Linked DNA regions of Homo sapiens. The protein of the gene in region 2 purifies or fractionates together with the protein of the main gene of each other region. This does not show direct contact. Each region holds a gene or a part of one and is shown on either strand. Other genes may lie near its edges.

Region 1 (7,211 bases), on a different chromosome or scaffold from region 2:
CCATGTTTGTGGTGCTTTCATTCTAGATTTCTTTTTTTAAGACGGAGTCTTGCTCTGTCACGCCCAGGCTGGAGTGCAGTGGTGCAATCTTGGCTCACTGGAACCTCTGCCTCCTGGGTTCAAGCGATTCTCCTGCCTCAGCCTCCTAAGTAGTTGGGATTACAGGTGCTCACCATCACACCCGGCTAACTTTTTGTATTTTTTAGTAGAGATGGGGGTTTCACCATGTTGGTCAGGCTGGTCTCGAACTCCTGACCTCAGGTGATCCACCCGCCTCGGCCTCCTGAAGTGCTGGGATTACAGGTGTGAGCCACCGCGCCCGGCCTAGAGTTTCACTCTTGTTGGCCAGGCTGGAGTGCAGTGGCGCAATCTCGGCTCACTGCAACCTCCGCCTTGCAGGTTCAAGCGATTCTCCTGTCTCAGCCTCCCAAGTGTCTGGGATTACAGGTGTGTGCCACCACACCTGGCTAATTTTTGTATTTTTAGTAGAGACAGCATTTCACCATGTTGGTCAGGCTGGTCTCGAACTCCTGACCTCAAGTGATCTGCCCACCTCGGCCTCCCAAAGTGCTGGGGTTACAGACATGAGCCACCACACCTGGTCTCATTTTAGATCTTATACCTTTGTTCATGGTGTGTGCTTTGCCTAGGATACACTAATCCCTGTCTTTAAAGTTACATTTTTTTCAGAACTCATTCTAAATCATTCAACAGCAAATGTGCTGTCCATTGTTTCAATCACTGAGAAGACAGCAATAAAAATACATTTGGGTCTTGTATTCTAGTAATCATCTCTGGTGAAGAAAATTATGGCTGATTTCTATTACTATTATTATTATTATTATGAGACAGGGTTTCACTGTGTTGCCTAGGCTAGTCTTGAACTTCTGGGCGCAAGTGATACTCCCACCTTGGCCTCCCAAAGTGCTGGGATTACAGGCATAAGCCACCACACTCGGCCTTATGTTTTTATCTTTTACTTATCCTTGATTTTTTTAAAACCTAGAACATGGTTTTTTTCTATAAATAAAAAATGCAGAAGAATATAAACTTAATATGATTATTTTGTAGAACTTACTGGCAGGTATTACTATTTTACTATTTTCCTTCCTTCCTTTTTTCTTTTTTCTTTTTTTTCAGAGGCAGGGTCTGCTGGTCTGGAACTCCTGACCTCAAGGGATCCGCCCACCTTGTCCTCCCAAAGTGCTGGGATTACAGGCATGAGCCACCATGCCCAGCCACTGTTTTCATCTTTAAAATCATTTGTTCTATTTACTGTAGGAGTTACAGTGAAAATTCTCCCTGGTAGATGAATTATTCATACTCTGGCAGACCCACAATTATTATAGGTGAATTTACTATAAGCCTGATAAAGCTTAATCTTCAGGGCCTTTTACTTGCACAGGATGCCTTCCAAGGCCCTGTACCTGATTTTTCCCAACACTTATGTATGAAAATTTCCAGATACACAGAAAAGTCAGTACAATTGTACTCTGAACAACCATATACCTACCACCTAAATTCTACAACTAACAATTTATTATATTTGTTTTATCACATACCTATTTATCTGCTTGTGCCTCTTTCTAGCCATTAATTCATCCTGATTTTTTATGCACTTCATTCCTAAACACTTCAGCATTTATGCCATTAACTGGAGTTTATCTCTCTATGAGCTTTTTTTTGGCGGGGGGGTGGGAAGGTAAGTTTTTGCTGTGAAAAATTTGTGTGAAATGCACAAATCTTAAAGATAGCATTTGATGAGTTTTGACAAATGCATACATATGAGTAATCCAAACTCTATCAAGATCATGAACATTATGGCCGGGCGCGGTGGCTCACGCCTATAATCCCAGCACTTTGGGAGGCCAAGGCGGGTGGATCACCTGAGGTCAGGAGTTCAGGACCAGCCTGGCCAACATAGTGAAACCCCACCGCTACTAAAAATACAAAAATTAGGTGGGCGTAGTGGCACGTGCCTGTGATCCCAGCTACTCAGGAGGCTGAGGCAGGAGAATCACTTGAACCCAGGAGGTGGAGGTTGCAGTGAGCCGAAATCATGCCATTGCACTCCAGCCTGGGCAACAGAGCGAGACCCTGTCTAAAAAAAAAAAAGTTCTAGAGCTAAAAAAGATTATTCATATGGCACAAAGTGATCTCCTACTAGTCCAAAGTTCAAAAACATTTTAATAAAGTCCATTCATATATCTTTTGTTTGCTTTCCAATGGAATACTACGTTTATTGAGGCAAAATCACATTATTTTTAGTTCTTGGAGTCAAAAAGCGTACACGAATGTTCTTCAACACAGTTACTAAAAATACAAGACCAAGTTGAATGTGCCAAAGAGATACCATTCAGTTGGGTTTTCTAGAGTCATCAGGAAGAATATTAGAGAAGGGATTTACATGGTTGGTTTCCATAGCTTGATAGACCAAACACACACAAAAAAACTGCCACAACAACAAACAGCAAAATTTTTATCCATACAGGAATGGAGCGTCCCTTTTTTTTGTATTTTCTCACTTGACGTCTGCCAAGGGAACATACTTAGGAACATATGTAGATGAAAACGACTCCTCCATCCTCAAATCACTGAGTTCTAATGGCCGGCCTGCAGCTCCTTTGATTGTTCTGCGGCAACTAGCACTAATTCTTGTTGGTGTAGTTGCTTCATAGGGGAACATTTCCTTAAGAATATCCCTTTCTACTCTTCTTTCCTGTGTTTTTTTTCTCCCACTTCAGCTCTTGTCAATGGTTTCTTTGGTGTTCTTCTGGGTATGTCTGAGAATTCAGTGACTGGCAGAATAGGAAATGCATGCTTGAAATTTCCAGTCACCCTATTGACAATTAAGGATTCGTTGTTTGAAGCAATTATAGTTTCAGCTATGGGAGTACTCGCTGAAATTACTGCTCCATCTATACGAAAATATTCTGAAGCGTGCACCCTTTTGCTTGGAGTTCTTCTTGACCCTCTTGTAGATTCCCTAGTTAATAATGCCTGCAGAGGTCCGCCTTTTGAAGATCCACTTGTCCATTCAGTCCCAGTTATTCCAGCTTGAGAATAGCTCTCCTTGTGCTCAACTCTTCTTTGCTTGAGGGTTACTGGAGTCTTTACTCCCCTGTTTAGCGGTTCTCTCTTCTCAAACTTGAGCCCAATTTAGAGTCTTCTTCATTTTCACCATATCTGTCAGAATCATTACTTCCATTCTGCCTTGTATTTTCTGCTGAAGAAGAAATTGTTGCTGAAGGAGACGATCTTGATTCTGTTCCTTGCTCCCTCAGTTTCAAAAGCTATTTCTCATACAGCTTCCTGGTTGTTCCCACAATAGGACCACAATTCACTCCGTATTTCACAAGCTGATCCAAAGGATCTTCATTAGTGAGTTCTGTTACATCTAGATCGTCTTTATCATCTTGTCTGGGTTTATCAGTTTTCTTTGTGGCTTTCCTGCCGGCGGCGGGCTCGGAGCCGAGACGGCTGTGGGCTCGCGCTCCTCGTACGTAGCTGGAGAATTCCGGGGGCCCCTTTCTTTTGGCGCTGGCGGCGAGCGGCGGCCCTAACAAGTGATTTGAGACTGTTCAGTAGCTCAGATCCCTTGCAGCGGTTTGAGATTGAAGAGATTATGTAGGCAAAGTATTTTGCGTGAGCTCTTCAACCCCATGAGAGGATACATATGAACTGGACTGTCCTACGCCTCTTTACAGGCTCCGAAATTCAAAATATTGAAATATTTTGAAATTATTCGATTAGCTGCTATCCTTTGGATACAGATAACTCCTTCACTAAAGCGTTAGGGATAAGCAGCAGGAGTCAGTTTTAATATCATCATCCCCATTCCAAAATGGACCGAGAAATCATATAACTTTCTCCCGCCAGAAAGTTCAAATAAAACGCGCTAAAAAAAAAAAAAAAAACCAAACAAAAAAAAAACAAAAAAACCTCCCATTTTTTCCGGGGCGGGTGCAAGGTGACGGACGTAGATTCCTGCCAATTGTAGGAGGCTTCCTCAAGCGCGGTCCCGCCTCGTCAGGACGAACTACCAGCCAATGAGAGCACCGCTGCTTCAGCTATCGGGGGACCCATTGAAGAAGAAGAGTGGGTATTGGCCACAGCGTAGGGCTTCTGTCCAATAGGAGCATGCCTGCCGGCGGCTCTGGCGGGAGCTTGAGCGGCTCCGGAAGTGGCAGTTGGCGTAGGTGCATTCGGAGTGCGGCCGAGGTAACTACCGAGTCTTCGGCGGGCTCGCGAGCCCGGCCGCGGCCTGCTGGTTTCAGGTGAGGAGGGGTGTTGCTTCTCCTCAGGCCTTGGGCCTCTAGCTTCGGGATAAACCTCCCCACGCCTGATTCCTGGATTGGGATTCAGGAGACACCCCACGAGGTGGGCTGCACGCGGGCTTGGAACCCGGCGGCCTGAGGGGATTCGGGCCCTCGGGGCGGCGCCAGTGGTCGGGGCTAAGGAGCCCGAACCCCCGCGCGTATCTGGGTTGCTGGGCGTGGGGGCTGGGCAGGCGAGAGCTCGGGGCGATCACTGAAGGAGCCGAGTTCGCTGCTGCGGGGCCTGCCCTGGCCGGGGTGGGAGGTCGCCCGGCCCTTCCCCCGAGAGCCTAGCCTCGGGCTCCTCAGCGGCGTTGCCTGCGCCCGCTCTGAGCGCCGATTACTTCATCACTTTAAAGTTGATGGAAGAACTTCATTTTTAATTTCATCACGGAAACTGTGGAGTAAAGACTTGTATTATCCCTGTTTTACAGGAGAACAAGTTGAGCCGAGTTTAGGAAACCCGCCCAAAGTTTCCCCATGTAGTAAAAGAACAGGGATTTAATATCTATGTATCTAATCAATCTATCTATCTATCTATCTATCTATCTATCTATCTATCTAATCTGTCTATCTAATCTATCTATGTCTTTCTTTCCCCATGTAGTAAAAGAACAGGGATTTAATTTCCTTCTTTCCCTCTCTCCCTTCCCCTCCCGTCTCCCTCTCCCTCCTCTTCCCCCTCCGCCTCTCCCTCTCCCTCTCTCTTCCTCCCTTTTTCCTGTTATAAAGAGAAAAAGGTGTTATAAAGAGAAAAGCGGTGGCTCAGGCCTGTAATCCCAGCACTTTGGGAGGCCGAGGCAGTCGGATCACCTGAGGCCAGGAGTTCGAGACCAGCCTGACCAACATGGAGAAACCCCATTTCCCAGCTACTCGGGAGGCTGAGGCAGGAGAATCGCTTGAACCCGGGAGGCCGAGGTTGCAGTGAGCTGAGATCACGCCATTGCACTCCAGCCTGGGCAACAAGAGTGAAACTCCATCTCAAAAAAAGAAAGAAAGAAAGAAAGAAAAGTCTCCCTGTTGCACCCAGGCTGGAAGAGCTCACTGCAGTCTCGAACTCCCGGGCCCCAGGGATCCTCCCACCTCGGCTTCCCGCAATAGCTGGGACCACAGGTGCGCGCCACCACGCCCGGCTCATTGTTTTATTTTTCTTTTTTCTTTCTTTTTTTGAGATAGAGTCTCGCTTTGTTGCCCCTGCTGGAGTGCAGTGGTGCGATCTCGGCTCACTGCAACCTCTGCCTCCCGGGTTCAAGCGATTCTCCTGCCTCAGCCTCCCAAGTAGCTGGGATTACAGGCATGCGCCACCACACCCGGGTAGTTTTTGTATTTTTAGTGGAGACGGGGTTTCACCATATTGGCCATTCTGGGACTCCGACCTCAAGTGGTCTGCCCTCGGCTTCCCAAAGTGCTGGGATTACAGGTGTGAGCCACCGCGCCTGACCTGTTCTATTTTTCTTTTTTGGTAGAGATGGGAATTTCACTGTGTTGCCCAAGCTGGTCTGGAACACCAGAGCGTAAGTGATCCATCCGCCTGGGCATTTCAGTGTCCAGGGATCACAGGCGTGACCCTCTGCACCGGCCAGAGCAAAGATTTGAACACTTCCCCCGCCCACCTCTTCTCAACCTTTAATTGAGGGGCTTTCGTCCTGCCTGTTGTGGCCATTGATTGAAACCTGAGTAACAAAGATGACAAGTCTGAGGTTGACATTTTAAGCACCGCTCACAGCACACATAAAAAACAGCGTTTGTGTGACATCCTCAAGGTTTGGGGTGCCCAGCCCATGGTCTCTCGTTCTAGGCACCTCCGACTGGCCTACAGTGGTTAGGAAGCTTCAGCTCCAGAACTGCACCGTTCCATAGAACTTTGTGCGACGAGAAAAGTGTTCTGTATTTCTGCTGTCCAGTATGGGAGTCACCCGCCCTATGTGTGTTTCTAGCAGTTGAAATGTGACCTGCACGACAAAGGAACTTATTTTATTTCTTTCTTTTTTCTTTTTTTAGACGGAGTCTTACTCTCTCTCCCGGTCTGGAGTGCAGTGGCGTGATCTCGGCTCAATGTAACCTCCACTCTCCGGGTTCAAGGGGTTCTCCTGCCTCAGCCTCCCAAGTAGCTAGGACCACAGGTGCACACCATCACGGCTGGCTAATTTTTTTGTATTTTTTGTAGAGACGGGGTTTTGCCGTGTTGCCCAGGCTGGTCTCCAACTCCTGGTCTCCAGCTACCTGCCTCAGTCTCCCAAAGTGCTGGGATTATAGGCGTGGGCCACAGCTCCTGGCCGAATTTGATTTTTATTTAATTTAAATAACCATATGGGAGTAGACAGTGCGGCCCCCTAGATTCTGCTCTTTTTAGTCCATTTCTCCCCTTTGTCTTCCTGAAGGCTGAGTTGCTTAATGTCTCTTGAGTACATCTAGAAGTAGCTTGGGCCTTATGTTCTGACACACAATTCTTGGGAGACTGTCGTTGTACCCTAGAAACATTAAAAGCTTTTAGTTAGGCAGCTGCAGTAGCTCACTCCTGTAATCCCAGCACTTTGGGAGGCTGAGGCAGAAGGGTTGCTTGAGCCGAGGAGTTGAAGACCAGCCTAGGCAACGTGGGAAACCCCATCTATACAAAAAATGTTTAAAACTTGAAGTATCTCACATTGTTCAGTTTGCAGACTTTCTTTCCCACTTATTTTCAGTACTGTGCCACTCTCCATCCTGAGTGTAAGCCTGTGTGGTTCAAACCTCCAGTTTTCTCGTGCATAGGGGGAGAAGGGCTTTGTTCTGTGTTTTGTTTTAGCTGGCTGGTGTTTGAGTAGGAGTCAAGCTAACTGCTTTACTGGCTTTTAACCAGCCCTTCTCTTTTAGCGCCATCTTTCAATATTGCCTTTTGTGGTACCTGGTTTTTAC
Region 2 (6,752 bases):
AGAGACACAGCCCCTACCCTTAGGGAGTTTTCAGTCTCCTAGAAACCCCACCATCCCACAGTCTTCCCCAGACCTCTTCTCTAAGCCTGGCCTTCAGCTCCCACCCCAAAGCCCTCTCCTCTTGCCACCAGCCCTGACTCTGCCCTTGGTCTGCTGCAGCTCCAGAAGTGCTGGCCCAGAAACCCTACAGCAAGGCTGTGGATTGCTGGTCCATCGGCGTCATCACCTACATATTGTGAGTAGACGCTGGCCTGGGTTCAGCTGATGAGAAGTCTCGGAGCCTGCTTACCCCTTCTCGTTCCCTCCCCTGTCTCAGCTCCTCCTCCAAGCACGTGCATGTGCACAAACAGACACAGGCACAGGGGCACACGGGTACACACACACACACACACACACACATACATGTACACACAGCTTAAAAGCTTCCTCTCTCTTCACCTCCACCAAGTTTTAAAACAGAGCTCAGCGTGAATCCACTGCACAGCCACCTGGCACTCCCTCCTCTTGCACCCCTGCCCCTTTTACTGCCTATAAATGTGTTGCATCCCACTCAGTGGAATGAACAGTGAAAAAGAGAGAGGCCAAGCCAGGCTTGGAAGCCAGGTGGACCCTCTGTTCCTACATCTCAGCTTTCCCAAGGCAAAACTGTGGCCTGGATAAAGCTGGTCAGGGCCTTTCCTTTTCGCTCCTCTCCACACATTCCCAAGCTCTCCCTTTCCTAACCTGCCCATCACCTCTTCCCCACCATCCCTCCTCACCTATAGCAAACTTTGCTCTTAGGAAAATAACCTGGTTTCAATTATCTCCTCCATTTATGTTGAATAAGTACTCTCATTTATTTACCCAACCAATATTCACTGCCTATCTACTCTGCATCTATCCCTGTGCTAGGTTCTAAAGAATCCCGCAGTGAACAACACAGCCTAAATAAATCCTTCATCAAGCTTACATTCAAGTAGACAGTCTACCAACTTTCTTAAACATATTTTATATAGCATTCATAAGTCAGGGAAAGTATAAGGAGAGGTGGCAAGGGTTGGAGGGCATAATGTACACAGGGACCTTCTAGGGATGACTGTGCCAAGGCTTGGCACTTGCATAAACACTTTACGGGACCTGTACCATTCTGGAATTTGAGGCAGATCTGCGTCCTGGTCACACCACTGTTCTGGGACCTTCAGTGCCCACCTGTGTATACAGTGGGAGCTTGGGGGAGCAGAGAGGCTGGCTCAGGGAGGACAGGTTTGTTCAGTAGTATGCCTCCTTCCTGTCCTGCTGCAGGCTCTGTGGATACCCCCCATTCTATGAAGAAACGGAGTCTAAGCTTTTCGAGAAGATCAAGGAGGGCTACTATGAGTTTGAGTCTCCATTCTGGGATGACATTTCTGAGTCAGGTAAGGCCAGTAGGCATGAAGGAGAGATAACAGGCTCAAGGTAGAGGCTGCCAAGAGAAATGAGCTTAACAAAGGATGACAGTCCCGGCTCTTCAAAGTCCCTGGGGATCTTACAGAACAGGCTGCCAAGGAAAGTGGAGAAATCTTCGTCTGCTTCAAAGACCCGATAAATTATTTACATCTAAGAGCTATGCTTTTGTTTTTCTGGAGGCAGAACCACAGTATGCCTGAAAAGGAGATGGGGGGGCAGTTTAGAAGATGGGCCAGGAGGGCAGAGCCAGGTGGTGAGGGGAGAGTTCCAGACAAGAGCAGCAAAACTAAGGGGTTAGATATCAAGAAAGAGCATGCAATGTCTATGTGTGAGAGAAGATGATCATTACGTGATTGTTGGACCTGTTAAGTGGAAATCAGAGCTGGAACAATCCAGCACTCACATGCGTGCCCATGTGCCAGCGCTGGCCCCTGTTTCAGTGCAAACACATGCACATGTGATGTGCAGGCACATGGGGGCCTTGTGACTAGTGACGCTTCTGCAGTGCTGTGTGGGTGAGGCGGCTTGGAGCTTCCCTTCTTTGGTGGTTTATGGTGGGTTGTTGTTAGGTGGTTTGGATTTTTTTTCCTCTTCTAAGACTCTTAAAATTGCCTCTTTGGAAGATCAGCTAAAGATGCATTCACTGCCACCCACCAGCCCGGAAGTGAATTTCCATCAGTCATGAAATCTGGTCCTTAGTCGTCGTGTCTTTGATTACTCCCCTTAGCCAAGGACTTTATTTGCCACTTGCTTGAGAAGGATCCGAACGAGCGGTACACCTGTGAGAAGGCCTTGAGTCATCCCTGGTGAGTGAGACATGGAGTGGACTCTAGACCCCAGCCCTGTAGTTCCCAAAACCATGCTGACTCATTCATATTGCATTTCCCTGGAATCTGCTTGTCCTGATCCATTTAATGATGTGACAAGCAAGGACCATGCCATTGTTCATCAGGCCCAGGTAGAGATTCAAACATTATACAGTGGAGCAGGTTCTAATGCAAGGGTAGCAGCTGGGTTGTCTGGTCAAGTGCAGGAGGCAGGTGCAGCCGAGCGCTGTCATTCAGCACTGGGATAGGGTGCAATGTTCAGTACTAGTTATTCAAGAAGTGCCAGGAATGGGCAACTCTGTCCTGTCCTTTAGAGCTTTGTTTTACTCAGGGATCAATAACTGTTCCAGGTGAAGTGATTTAAGAACAACTGCAAAGCAACCGATTGGCAAAATAGGAAAAAGAAAATCTTAAAATATTTTTTCATGTTACTTCCCAACTCAATTTACAATAGCTCCCCACTTCATACCCCAGCAAGCCTGGATTCCTTTGTCTTTCCAGTTTCCCTAATATGGCCTGACCCTTTATCTCCAGCCTCTTTTCCCAGGATTGCCAGCATACCTCCTCTGTCCAGATAGGCCTGGGAGCTATATCTGTCTCACCCCACATACCAAGCTCTGTCTTAACTACACCTTGGATCAGATCATTCCCACTACCTACAATGTCCTGCCTCTTGCCCTGTATGTAGCATCTTTCAGGATCCAGATCAGTCTCTGCCCTTCCCTGAAGCCCCTGACCCCTGCAGCCCAACCCAATCTCCCCAGTTCTCTTTATTAATCACACGGCTTACCATGTATTACTGCAGTCCATAGCATGAACAACACCCGACATCTAGACTGTAGGCTCCTAGGGGTCAGGGCCCATGTCTCTTACTTCTCGAGGTCTATTAGTAGTTGGCACAGTACTATGCACACAGCAAGTGTCTGAGGAACACTTAGAGACCAGTGAATAAGAGGCTAAGGGGATAGGAAAGGGGCAGCCTGTACCAGACGGCCTTACTGAGGAAGGCTTCCAGGAGGAGGTGGGTTCTAGGCAAGGTTTTGAGCTAAAGGATGGTGACTACCCCAGTGCCCTGTGATGCTGGGTCCAATAAACTTTTTCTATAAAGCATCAGATAGTAAATATTTTAGGCTTTCCTGGCCATACTGTCTTTATGGCAACTACTCAACCCTGCTGTCACAGTGCAAAAGGAGCCACAGACAATACCTGAATTAATGGGCACCACTGTGTCCCCATAAAACCTTATTTACAAAAACAGGCAATAGGTCGATTTGGCCTATAGGCTATAGCTTGTTGACCTTGCTCTAAAAGTTTTTGATTTTGCCAAAGCTAAAGCCGACTCTTACTTGCCCAGGGGCACAGAGGAGACCTGCTTGCAGCCCTTTCCTGCTGTGGGCTGTCTTTCCTCTGCACACTCTACCCAGCTCTCACCTAGACCTGCAGGCACCCTGCCCACTCCCTGGATGAGTGTAAATAGCCACCCAGTAGCCAGGTGTCCCCTCTTACATCCACAGGATTGACGGAAACACAGCCCTCCACCGGGACATCTACCCATCAGTCAGCCTCCAGATCCAGAAGAACTTTGCTAAGAGCAAGTGGAGGGTAAGCTGTCCTCTCCAGGGGGTGGGAAAGCTGTTCTGGGCCCCTGGAGGCTGGGCTGGCAGGGGCTGACATAAGGGCTTTCCTTGGGATGTCCCAGAAGGCATTGGAGCTCCGTGTACCCTCTCTGAAATGAGAAGTGGGCACCCAGGTTTCAAGAGGCCACAAGGCAAAGGGAAAGTTTAAGCTCCAAGGCCCTCTGAGGTTGCAGAAGGCCAGAGGCTGCTCTTGTGTCTCCTTAGCAAGCCTTCAACGCAGCAGCTGTGGTGCACCACATGAGGAAGCTACACATGAACCTGCACAGCCCGGGCGTCCGCCCAGAGGTGGAGAACAGGCCGCCTGAAACTCAAGCCTCAGAAACCTCTAGACCCAGCTCCCCTGAGATCACCATCACCGAGGCACCTGTCCTGGACCACAGTGTAGCACTCCCTGCCCTGACCCAATTACCCTGCCAGCATGGCCGCCGGCCCACTGCCCCTGGTGGCAGGTCCCTCAACTGCCTGGTCAATGGCTCCCTCCACATCAGCAGCAGCCTGGTGCCCATGCATCAGGGGTCCCTGGCCGCCGGGCCCTGTGGCTGCTGCTCCAGCTGCCTGAACATTGGGAGCAAAGGAAAGTCCTCCTACTGCTCTGAGCCCACACTCCTCAAAAAGGCCAACAAAAAACAGTACGTATTTTTAGCCAAAGATGGAGCCCCAGCTTGGGTCTGAAAGAAATCGGTCAACAGGACTGAAAGAAATGGACACAAAGGCCTCTCCCACTCATAGGCAGCTATATAGGGAGGGATGAGTTCTGGATGAGGGGGCAAGGAAAATGCTTCCAGCCCTGTCCCCATCACTTACTAGTTGTGAGGCCATTGACGAGTCAATGTCTCTGCTTCTATTTTGCTCATCTGTAAACTGGGTTGAAGTCTATTTACCCAATTAGCCTGCCTCACAGAGGTACTATAAAAGGTTAGTGAAGCAACAGAGATGATAAAAGCCCACAGAAAACTGGGTATTTGCAAGTGGTGAGCATCAGATTCCCCGAGTTTCCAGGGCCTCTGTGCTTTGCAGAAGGAAGTGTAGGGGGGCTTGGTTATCTTTATCTTTTCTGCAGGTTCTTGAACTTTCTGAACCTCATGAGGGGAGAGCTGAGTGGATGCCACAGGCACAGAGAACTACCACCTCTGCCCTGCCCCATCGACTCTTCTTCCCTCAAATACTTCAAAGGTTGTTGCTTCATTTCCTTTCTAGGAACTTCAAGTCGGAGGTCATGGTACCAGTTAAAGCCAGTGGCAGCTCCCACTGCCGGGCAGGGCAGACTGGAGTCTGTCTCATTATGTGATTCCTGGAGCCTGTGCCTATGTCACTGCAATTTTCAGGTTAGGAGGGTCACAGTGTGAGGCTTGGGGAGAGTTTCTGTCCCAGAGGAGAGCCCCATGCCAGAGTGTGAGTGATGGGGTCTGAGGTGGCAACCCCCTCCTCACTCTGAGCCCCTTTCTCTTGCAGGAGACATATTCAACTCCTCTGCTCTTCCAAACCTGGTGTCTATCCGGCAGAGGGAGGAAGGCAGAGCAAGTGGAGCAGGGCTTAGCAGGAGCAGTTTCTGGCCAGAAGCACCAGCCTGCTGCCAGCGGGGCAGCCCCTCATAGGAGGCCCAGGAGGGAGCCCCAAGGCGTAGAAGCCTTGTTGAAGCTGTGAGCAGGAGAAGCGGTGCCCACCAGCTTCCAGGTCTCCCTGACCTGCCTGCTCTATGCCCCACACCCTACGTGCCGTGGCTCTGTGCAGTGTACGTAGATAGCTCTCGCCTGGGTCTGTGCTGTTTGTCGTGAAAAGCTTAATGGGCTGGCCAGGCTGTGTCACCTTCTCCAAGCAAAGCCATATGGAGCATCTACCCAGACTCCCACTCTGCACACACTCACTCCCACCTCTCAAGCCTCCAACCTCTTGGCCAGATTGGGCTCATTAATGTCGTTGCCTGCCCATCTGCATGAATGACAGGCAGCTCCCCATGGTGGTCTGCCTGTGAGCTCTTCAAGTTCTAATCCTTAACTCCAGGATTAGCTCCCAAGTGCGCTGAGACCCAGCCAGCACACTTCTGGCCCTTCTCCCTGCCTCAATCTAAAAGCAGTGCCACACCCTCCAAAGTGGAATAGAAAGAAGTTCATGAGTAAGGGCTGCAAGGAATTCTTATCCTGGCCACATGTCCTCCGTGCACACACCCAATGGAGTTAACCTTGGAAGTTGACTATTTTAATGTCTGCCAGGAGTTCTAATCCTGCCTCTGTTCCCTTTTCTCTCCTTGAAAGTCCAGCACACCATTCTTGTCCTTCCCCAGTTTCCTCGCCCTCCACCCCTCCAGCTTCATGCTCAGTGTTGTGCTTAATAAAATGGACATATTTTTCTCTATGAGGCTTCATTTGGTTCTTTCAAAGTCAGGAGCAGTTCAGGGACTTCTGAGCATGTCTGGAGTAGAGAGTGCATGGATGGCTGGGGTCAGCAAGGAACCAGCAGTTGTAGCTGATGTGCATACAGATGTGCATATAGCTGAGTATACAGTGCTCCAGGCACTGGACATGAGTTACATCATTAACTCATTACTTCTCACAACAACCCCTTGGGACAGGTTCTGTTGGAACCGAGGCAGTCTGGCTTTAGTGGCCATTCTCTTAATGGCTCTATTAGATGAGCATGAGTTCGAGCCCCAGCTCTGCCCCGACCTGCCATATCTGTGACCTTGGGGAAGTTACTTAGTCTTTCGTGCCTTGGTTTCCTCACTTATCCAATGGGAATAGCAGTGCCACCTGCATCATGAAATGATGCAGATGATGTGCCCAGCCTCGTGGCCAATAAATAATCAAAATGATTAACAATGATCAAGAAGTTAATGTAGATAAAATGTCTAGCACAGTGCCTGCTT
Region 3 (7,026 bases), on a different chromosome or scaffold from region 2:
TGGTCCCCACAGGCAACATGGACAGTAAAATATACTAAAAACAGTGGCTACTTTCCTTAAGTGATGAAATAGAAAATATTTTAAATTTCTTCTTCATACTTTTCTGTATTTCCTAAATTTCCTACTTATAAGCATCTTTTGGTAATTGAAACTAAGTATGTGAAATAAGTCTTATCTTAGAGGCTTTATTTAAATCTTTATTACTGAACTAAGAACTTCATTATACCATAATTGTCAATAATATATGTACTTAGACTTGATAAGGTTATTTTATAATTTCATTGTTCAGTATTAATAAAAAATTAAAATCTGTTCATCTGCAAAGTAATTTAGAATGCCCTATGTTATATTTTCTAAAAAGTCTTCATTCAGGTGTTAGAGAAGAAGAATGGAGAATACAGGGCTCTGTACAGGGACGATAAAGATAACATGAGTAGTTAACAGGAACACTATTTTAGTCCTGAACAAACTATGTTTAATATGATATGTATAACCTAAGGTTTAGTGATATGGCAACCACACATTCAGAATTAGAGATGACTGCATTAAACAAAATGAATGTCTGGTTTGAAGGGAAAAACAAAATCTACGCAGGAATAATTTGGAATTTGTTTACAAATAAGGTTTTAAGTCAGGGGTGGTGCCCACACTTGTAGCCCCAGCAGGAGAACTGCTTGACCTCAGGAGTTCGAGGCTGCAGTGCACTATGATTGTGTCTATGAACAGCCACTGCACTTCAGCCTGGGCAACACTGCAAGACCCTATCTATTCAATTAAAAAAAAAAAAGGTTTTAAAAATAAGGGTGATTTAAAATGTAAAGATTTGGGCTGGGCATGGTGGCTCACGCCTGTAATCCCACAGCACTTTGGGAGGCTGAAGCAGGCGGATCACTTGAGGTCAGGGGTTCGAGATCAGACTGGCCAACATGGTGAAACCCCATCTCTACTAAAAATACAAATATTAGCTGGGTGTAGTGGTGGGCACCTGTAATCCCAGCTACTCAGGAGGCTGAGGTTGCAGTAAGCCGAAATCGTGCCACTGCATTCCAGCCTGGGTGACAGTGAGACTCCATCTCAAAAAAAAAAAAAAGAAAGATTTGTAAAAATTTCATTTTATGAGAAACTAAGGATTCCTACAGAAGTACAATTCTTATAAACAATTTAAAACAACAGTTTTATATCTAGAGAAGGCCTTAGAAACCATCGTTTAAAGCTTACATTTTATCTTTCTCTAAGTTTCAAGCTTTTTCATGTGTAAAGTGACAGGTTTAATCAACAGCAGTTAGTGGCAGAGCTAGATCTAGAAGCTGATTTCCTGGGATGCCCTATAAATCAGAAAGGTAATTCTATTATAAATTAATATTACAAGAATAGAGCTCTAAACTGAATGAAAATAGCAATGACTTCATGATCTAAACCATCACACCCACTATAGTTGCCTTTGAAATTTTTCTTACTGGCCAATGGCTATTCCTTTATATAGAATATTTTTAAATAGAGAGAAGTGGTAAAGAATTTTATTAACATCTAGAGTCTGGAGTAATCCAGTATCACTAAGCATCATCTGACATGGTAAAATTTCCAGTAAGATCTATTTAAGGTCCATTACAGAATTACTTAAACCTTGTATTATTTAAAAAATATCTCAAGAGGACAAGTAGTCTACTTCTGCAGGAAAATATTTTTAATACCAACTATAAAATGTTTATAATTTTATATACGTAGAAGACTCAGCAAAATTTTATCAGATCAGGAGATTAGAGTATGAACAGTGGGAATCCGTAACAAATGTGACTGACTAGCTGGCAACCTGATGTAAAAACACAGAAGGCTGCCCTAAAAGCAGGAAAAGAGAGTTTAGAAAGCAGTTTTCCTGGTTGGGTTTTCGTTGTGCACCTCACCTGCTCTGGAAGTAGTTTGCTAGCTCTGATGCTTCATGGTTCAGACTCCTCAGGTGCACGATTAAATTTCCAGAGTTGGTGAACATGGCGCCACATGTTTTGCACTCGTAAATCCGAGGCTTGCGGATAATGTGCCGGGAAACCCTCATGTGGTGTTTATATTCCCCGAAGGAAGTGAAAGTGGCACTACATATCTGGCACCGGAAACAGCGTTTACCTTCATGCTTTAGGCGATGCATCTTTAGCGAGTAAGCCCTGGTGAACTTTTTCCCACAGCGGTCACACTGAAATGGTTTAATTCCTGTAAATAAAGCAAAACAAAATATCTAAAAACAAAAATAAACTGAAAAGTCATAAACCCTACAAATTTCTGAACTATATTTCTGTAGCAACAGATCATCTGAAAAGGCAAGAATTACCAGCAAAAACATATTCTAATTGAGTATCTCAGAAAATGTGCAGAATATGTGAAAAGTCACAAGTGCTTAAAAAGGAAAAGAAAAAAAGGCAGTAGGGGAGGCAAACTAGGTAACGTCTACTGAAGCTGATTTTTGAATGCTTTTCTAGATCATCTATTTTACTAACTTCAAAACACAATTTAACTACAGTATGTAGACAGAACCCAAATCCCCACTAACAGCACATATTATTTCATTTCATTAGAGGTTTACATTGAACGGATATGAAAATCATCAGTACCTACTCTCTGTTCCCTATCTCACAGAGAAACGAGAAGAAAGAACAATTTTAACATCTCTGAATGTAATGAGCATGACAGAACCATCATTTGATATAATGGGTTTTTTTGGGTAATATGATGTAATATTGATAGAAATAAATGAGTTATAAAGTGTATTAATAGTCTCCTCAAATTCATTATCACAGTGTTTTGGGGAAAAAATTTTAAAACCTTTCAAAACACAGTCTACGGATTGAACAAAGTCACAGAGAATTGGTGCTAGGACAGGGACTGTAAGACCTATCTACAGAAGGGGAAAGTGAGATAGTAACTCACGCAGCTGAAAACAGCAGCAAAGATCTCTTACTCGTCAGAGGTCAGTGTTTTACCCACAAGAATCCTGTTGCCTTCATGTGATTACTGAACTAAAATTTCAAATCCCCTCTATACATTTATCCAAAATCTCTGTTATGTTTAAAAAAATACAAACTACAAAGCTGACTCATCAGGGCACACAGAGATTTAGGACTGTAGAATTGAAAGTAAATTAGCAAGAAAATATTACATTTTTAAACACACTTTTATTTGGGAAAAATTTCAAACTTAAAGAGACATTATAAGAAGAACAGCACAAAGAACACCCATACAGACCCTTTTAACCCTATTTGCTTTACCATCTGTGTTTGTGATTCTCTATCTCACCTCTATGTGCACACCTAATATGTCTTTTTATTTACAAAGTACTCACTCCATATCACCTTATGTTCTTTTAATCAGAATACTCAACACCCGTGGCAAGCAGCTTTCTGACACTGCATCATTTCAGCAATAAACCTTAGCTAATCTGTTTTCATTTGACTTCCCAGAGTTTTTTTTAAAACTCAGAAGCCCCTGTTTTCTATTTTAACTGGGACTGCAAAATAAAATGTTTTAGAGCGTTCACTTACGCACCAACAGGGAAGGTGACATTACCTGAGTGGATGAGCATGTGCTGCTTTAGGTTCTGAATACGGGTGAATCGCACCCCGCAGGTTGGACACTGAAAAGGTCTGTCGGGACCATTTGGACTTGGTCGCTCTGTACTGCTGGTGGAAGGAGCAATGTAGAGTTGGTAGGGATACTGAACATTTTCCAATCTAAAAAAAACAGACCAAAGAAGGCAACCAGGCTCTGATTTTTAAACTGAATAAACACTGCTATAGGTCAATTTTAAATGAAAAAAGATAAAACACTTAAAGACTTTTTGAAACAGTTTAACTGTTAGACTTCAAGTTTTACTTTAACAATATGAAAAACAATGTTAATGTCCAGAATGCCTTTTGTTTTTTTTTTTTATTTTTTGAGACGGAGTTAGGCAGAAGTCATATCGTGTAGGGCTTTAGAAGGCATAGCAAGGCCTATAGATTTTAGGTATGAATAAAGAATGTTAAGAATCTATAGCTTAAAACAGTGACATAATCTGACTTAATTAAAAAAGAAAAGATGATTTTGGCTGCTACATGGAAAATGGATTAGGGGAAGAATGCAATCAGAGGCTACTTTGAAGGTTATTGCAGTAGTCAAGGCAAAAGATGGTGGTGACTTAGAGTAGGGTGGCTACAGTACAGATTAGAAAAGTAGACAGGGATATATTTTATAGGCAGAGTTGACAGGACTTAAGGATTAACTACGAGGGAGATGAAGAGTGGTAAGGAAAAAAGATTAAGAACAATCCTCAGAGATTTTGCTTGAGAAATTAGGGGATAATGATGATGCTTACTGAAATGGGAGAAAGGCTGGAGAAGCAGGATTCAGACAAGGAGTTAGAAATCAAGAGTTCTGTCTTGGCCTTGTTAAATGTGAAATGCCCTTTATACATTTATGTGGAAATATCAAGCAGGGAGGGAGTTATGGGTATACAGATCAGACTTTGGCAGATGTTTTTCACAGCAGTCCGTACAGCACACATTCTGACTTTGCACACCATACAGTCTGTTTCAACCACTCAACTCTGCCATCCACAAACAATATGTCAGCAAATGAGCCTGGTTGTGTTCCAGTAATACTTGATTTACAAATAAAGGTGGTAGGCTGGAATTGGCCTGTGGTTCATAGTTTGCCAACACTTGGTACAGATACGATTTAAAGCAATGGGACTAGGTAGTTTTGGAAATGCTGGGGAAAAAAAAAAGCCTTGTATAGGTACTCTAATTTATAATGTGATGATGCTACTTCATTACTTTGAAAAGTATACTGAAGTGAGGTTGTAATAAACTTCTACAACTCTTGAGATGAAATGCTTGAATTTGGAGTTGTAAACACAACCCTTAAGAGGTAACGAAATGCTATGTTAGTACTGACCGATCATCATCATCCGGAGGAGCATTAGTGCTAGACGTGCTTTGAAGTGTAGGCAAGCCCTCAGAAACGCCTTCATCTACTGAGCCTGTGAATAAGAGAAAGAGGACCACTGTAATCCTTTGGTGTGAATAAGCCAAGATTGTAACTGAAAGCTATATTATATCTAAGCCTCTGACATATATTATCTAGTGTTCATATCCTGAATTATTAATCCAAAGTAGTGTTCTACATTTTTTTTTTTTTTTTTTGAGACTGAGTCTCGCTCTGTCGCCCAGGCTGGAGTGCGGTGGCGCGATCTCGGCTCACTGCAAGCTCTGCCTCCTGGGTTTACGCCATTCTCCTGCCTCAGCCTCCCGAGTAGCTGGGACTACGGGCGCCCGACACCACGCCCGGCTCATTTTTTGTATTTTAGTAGAGACAGGGTTTCACTGTGTTAGCCAGGATGGTCTCGATATCCTGACCTTGTGATCCACCTGCCTCGGCCTCCCAAAGTGCTGGGATTACAGGCGTGAGCCACCGCACCCAGCCGTGTTCTATATTTTTAAATGTTTGTGATTTTAAAGAAAAACCACATGTAAGATAATAGTCTTATATTACTATTTAAGTTCTTTTAGAAATATTTCTTTGACACATTTCAGAAAGCAAGCAGGGCAATTCAAAAGCGAACAAAAATCCACATAAAACTGAGTAATTAACCATTTAAGGAAACACTGAAATTCTTATTTTTTAAAACTTATTGAAGACATACAACTTGTTGCACAACTTTTATACAGAATTTAACAGATAAAGTGAACACCCAGGCAACCTCCACACACAAGCCACACGAAAGCACGGCCAGCATCCTGGAAGTCCCCATTCATCCTTCCCTGATCATAAACCCCTCCCTTCTCCAAAAGCTTCTTATGGTTATCATTTTCCTCCTCCCATTCTCTCACTTTTAAAAGTAATTTTATCTTGAATACAAGTATCCATAAGGTAGGTATTCGTTCTTGCTGGAACACAACTTTGGCTGGACTAGGGCTGCTTCTGCCTACAGTGGCAGAGTTTAGTAGCTTTTGGTTGTGACAGAGACCATGTGGCAGTTATGTCTAAAACAGTTATCATTTTGCCTTTAAAGGAAAGTTTGCCAAGGCTTGCCATAAACAATACTTTTTAGTGTTGTCTGGCTGTTTTATATAAACCGGGTCATACTATATGTATTCTTTTGTCTTGCTTCTTTCCTCCAACATTGTGGACTCATCGTTTTTACGTGTAACCAAAGTTTATTTTCATTGTTTATAATATTCATCATTATCCATTTTACTCTTGATGGACAGTTTTTTGGCTATTAAGAACAATGCTGCTGTGAATATCCTTAATGCACATAAGCATGCTTTTCTCCATGGTAAAGACTTAGGAATGGAGGTGGTACATATGTAGGAATGGAATTGCTAGGTCACTGAACACATTTATCTTCAACTTTATTAGAAAATACTAAACTCTTTCCAGAGTGACTGTACTAAATTCACATCACTGCTAGTATATCAGAGTTGTGCTGCTCCATATCCTTACCTCCTTACCAACATTTGGTATTGCTGGATTTTTAAGTTATTACCACTGGTTTTTAAAATTATTACCAACCTGGTGTATGTCTTACAATATTTCATGGTGGTTTGAATTGCATTTCCCTTATAACTACTGGGGTGAATCTAGTGTCACATATTTACGGAATCTCCCTTCCTCCCTCTTTTGTGAAATGCCAGAGTTGTCTGCCTTTTTAGCATAAGAGTTCTTTTCACAATTTGTATATAAGCCCTTGGTCAGTGATACATACTACAAATATCTTTCCCCATCCCATGGCTTTTTTTTTCACCCTTTCTAATGGCTTCTTCTGATGAACAAAGTTTAACATTTTAATTTAATTAATCCTTTTCTCATTGTTATGGCTTTTTGGTCTTGTTTTTAAAAAATCTTTCCCTGTCTGAAATTATCTTATGAAAAGTATCATGTTTTGTGCCTTATGTTTTTTCTTTAACCCATTGGAGTTGACTTTGTGACCGAATGTCATGAAAGGTCTGCCTTCTCTGCTCTGCAGTGCCTCCTGTGTTGTATGTCATGTATAAATAC

The links.
Region 1: the proteins of CAMK1G (region 2) and RFWD3 purify together in Homo sapiens (affinity purification with mass spectrometry; 2 studies listed by BioGRID and IntAct, with this or other methods). This does not show direct contact.
Region 3: the proteins of CAMK1G (region 2) and ZBTB44 purify together in Homo sapiens (affinity purification with mass spectrometry; 2 studies listed by BioGRID and IntAct, with this or other methods). This does not show direct contact.

The regions. Positions count from the first base shown.
Region 1 is NC_000016.10:74,663,852-74,671,062, reverse strand, and holds the start of RFWD3 (E3 ubiquitin-protein ligase RFWD3), read left to right. Parts: upstream 1-4,185; 5' UTR 4,186-4,277; intron 4,278-5,782; exon of another isoform or gene 5,783-5,830; intron 5,831-6,317; exon of another isoform or gene 6,318-6,439; intron 6,440-6,562; exon of another isoform or gene 6,563-7,211. UniProt on the Homo sapiens protein: E3 ubiquitin-protein ligase required for the repair of DNA interstrand cross-links (ICL) in response to DNA damage. Plays a key role in RPA-mediated DNA damage signaling and repair.
Region 2 is NC_000001.11:209,607,699-209,614,450, forward strand, and holds the end of CAMK1G (calcium/calmodulin-dependent protein kinase type 1G), read left to right. Parts: intron 1-159; coding exon 160-235; intron 236-1,281; coding exon 1,282-1,394; intron 1,395-2,152; coding exon 2,153-2,231; intron 2,232-3,766; coding exon 3,767-3,854; intron 3,855-4,093; coding exon 4,094-4,518; intron 4,519-5,086; coding exon 5,087-5,177; 3' UTR 5,178-5,214; intron 5,215-5,341; 3' UTR 5,342-6,241; downstream 6,242-6,752. UniProt on the Homo sapiens protein: Calcium/calmodulin-dependent protein kinase belonging to a proposed calcium-triggered signaling cascade. In vitro phosphorylates transcription factor CREB1.
Region 3 is NC_000011.10:130,234,892-130,241,917, forward strand, and holds part of ZBTB44 (zinc finger and BTB domain-containing protein 44), read right to left. Parts: intron 5,006-7,026; coding exon 4,921-5,005; intron 3,717-4,920; coding exon 3,553-3,716; intron 2,203-3,552; coding exon 1,902-2,202; intron 1,326-1,901; exon of another isoform or gene 1,219-1,325; intron 1-1,218. UniProt on the Homo sapiens protein: May be involved in transcriptional regulation.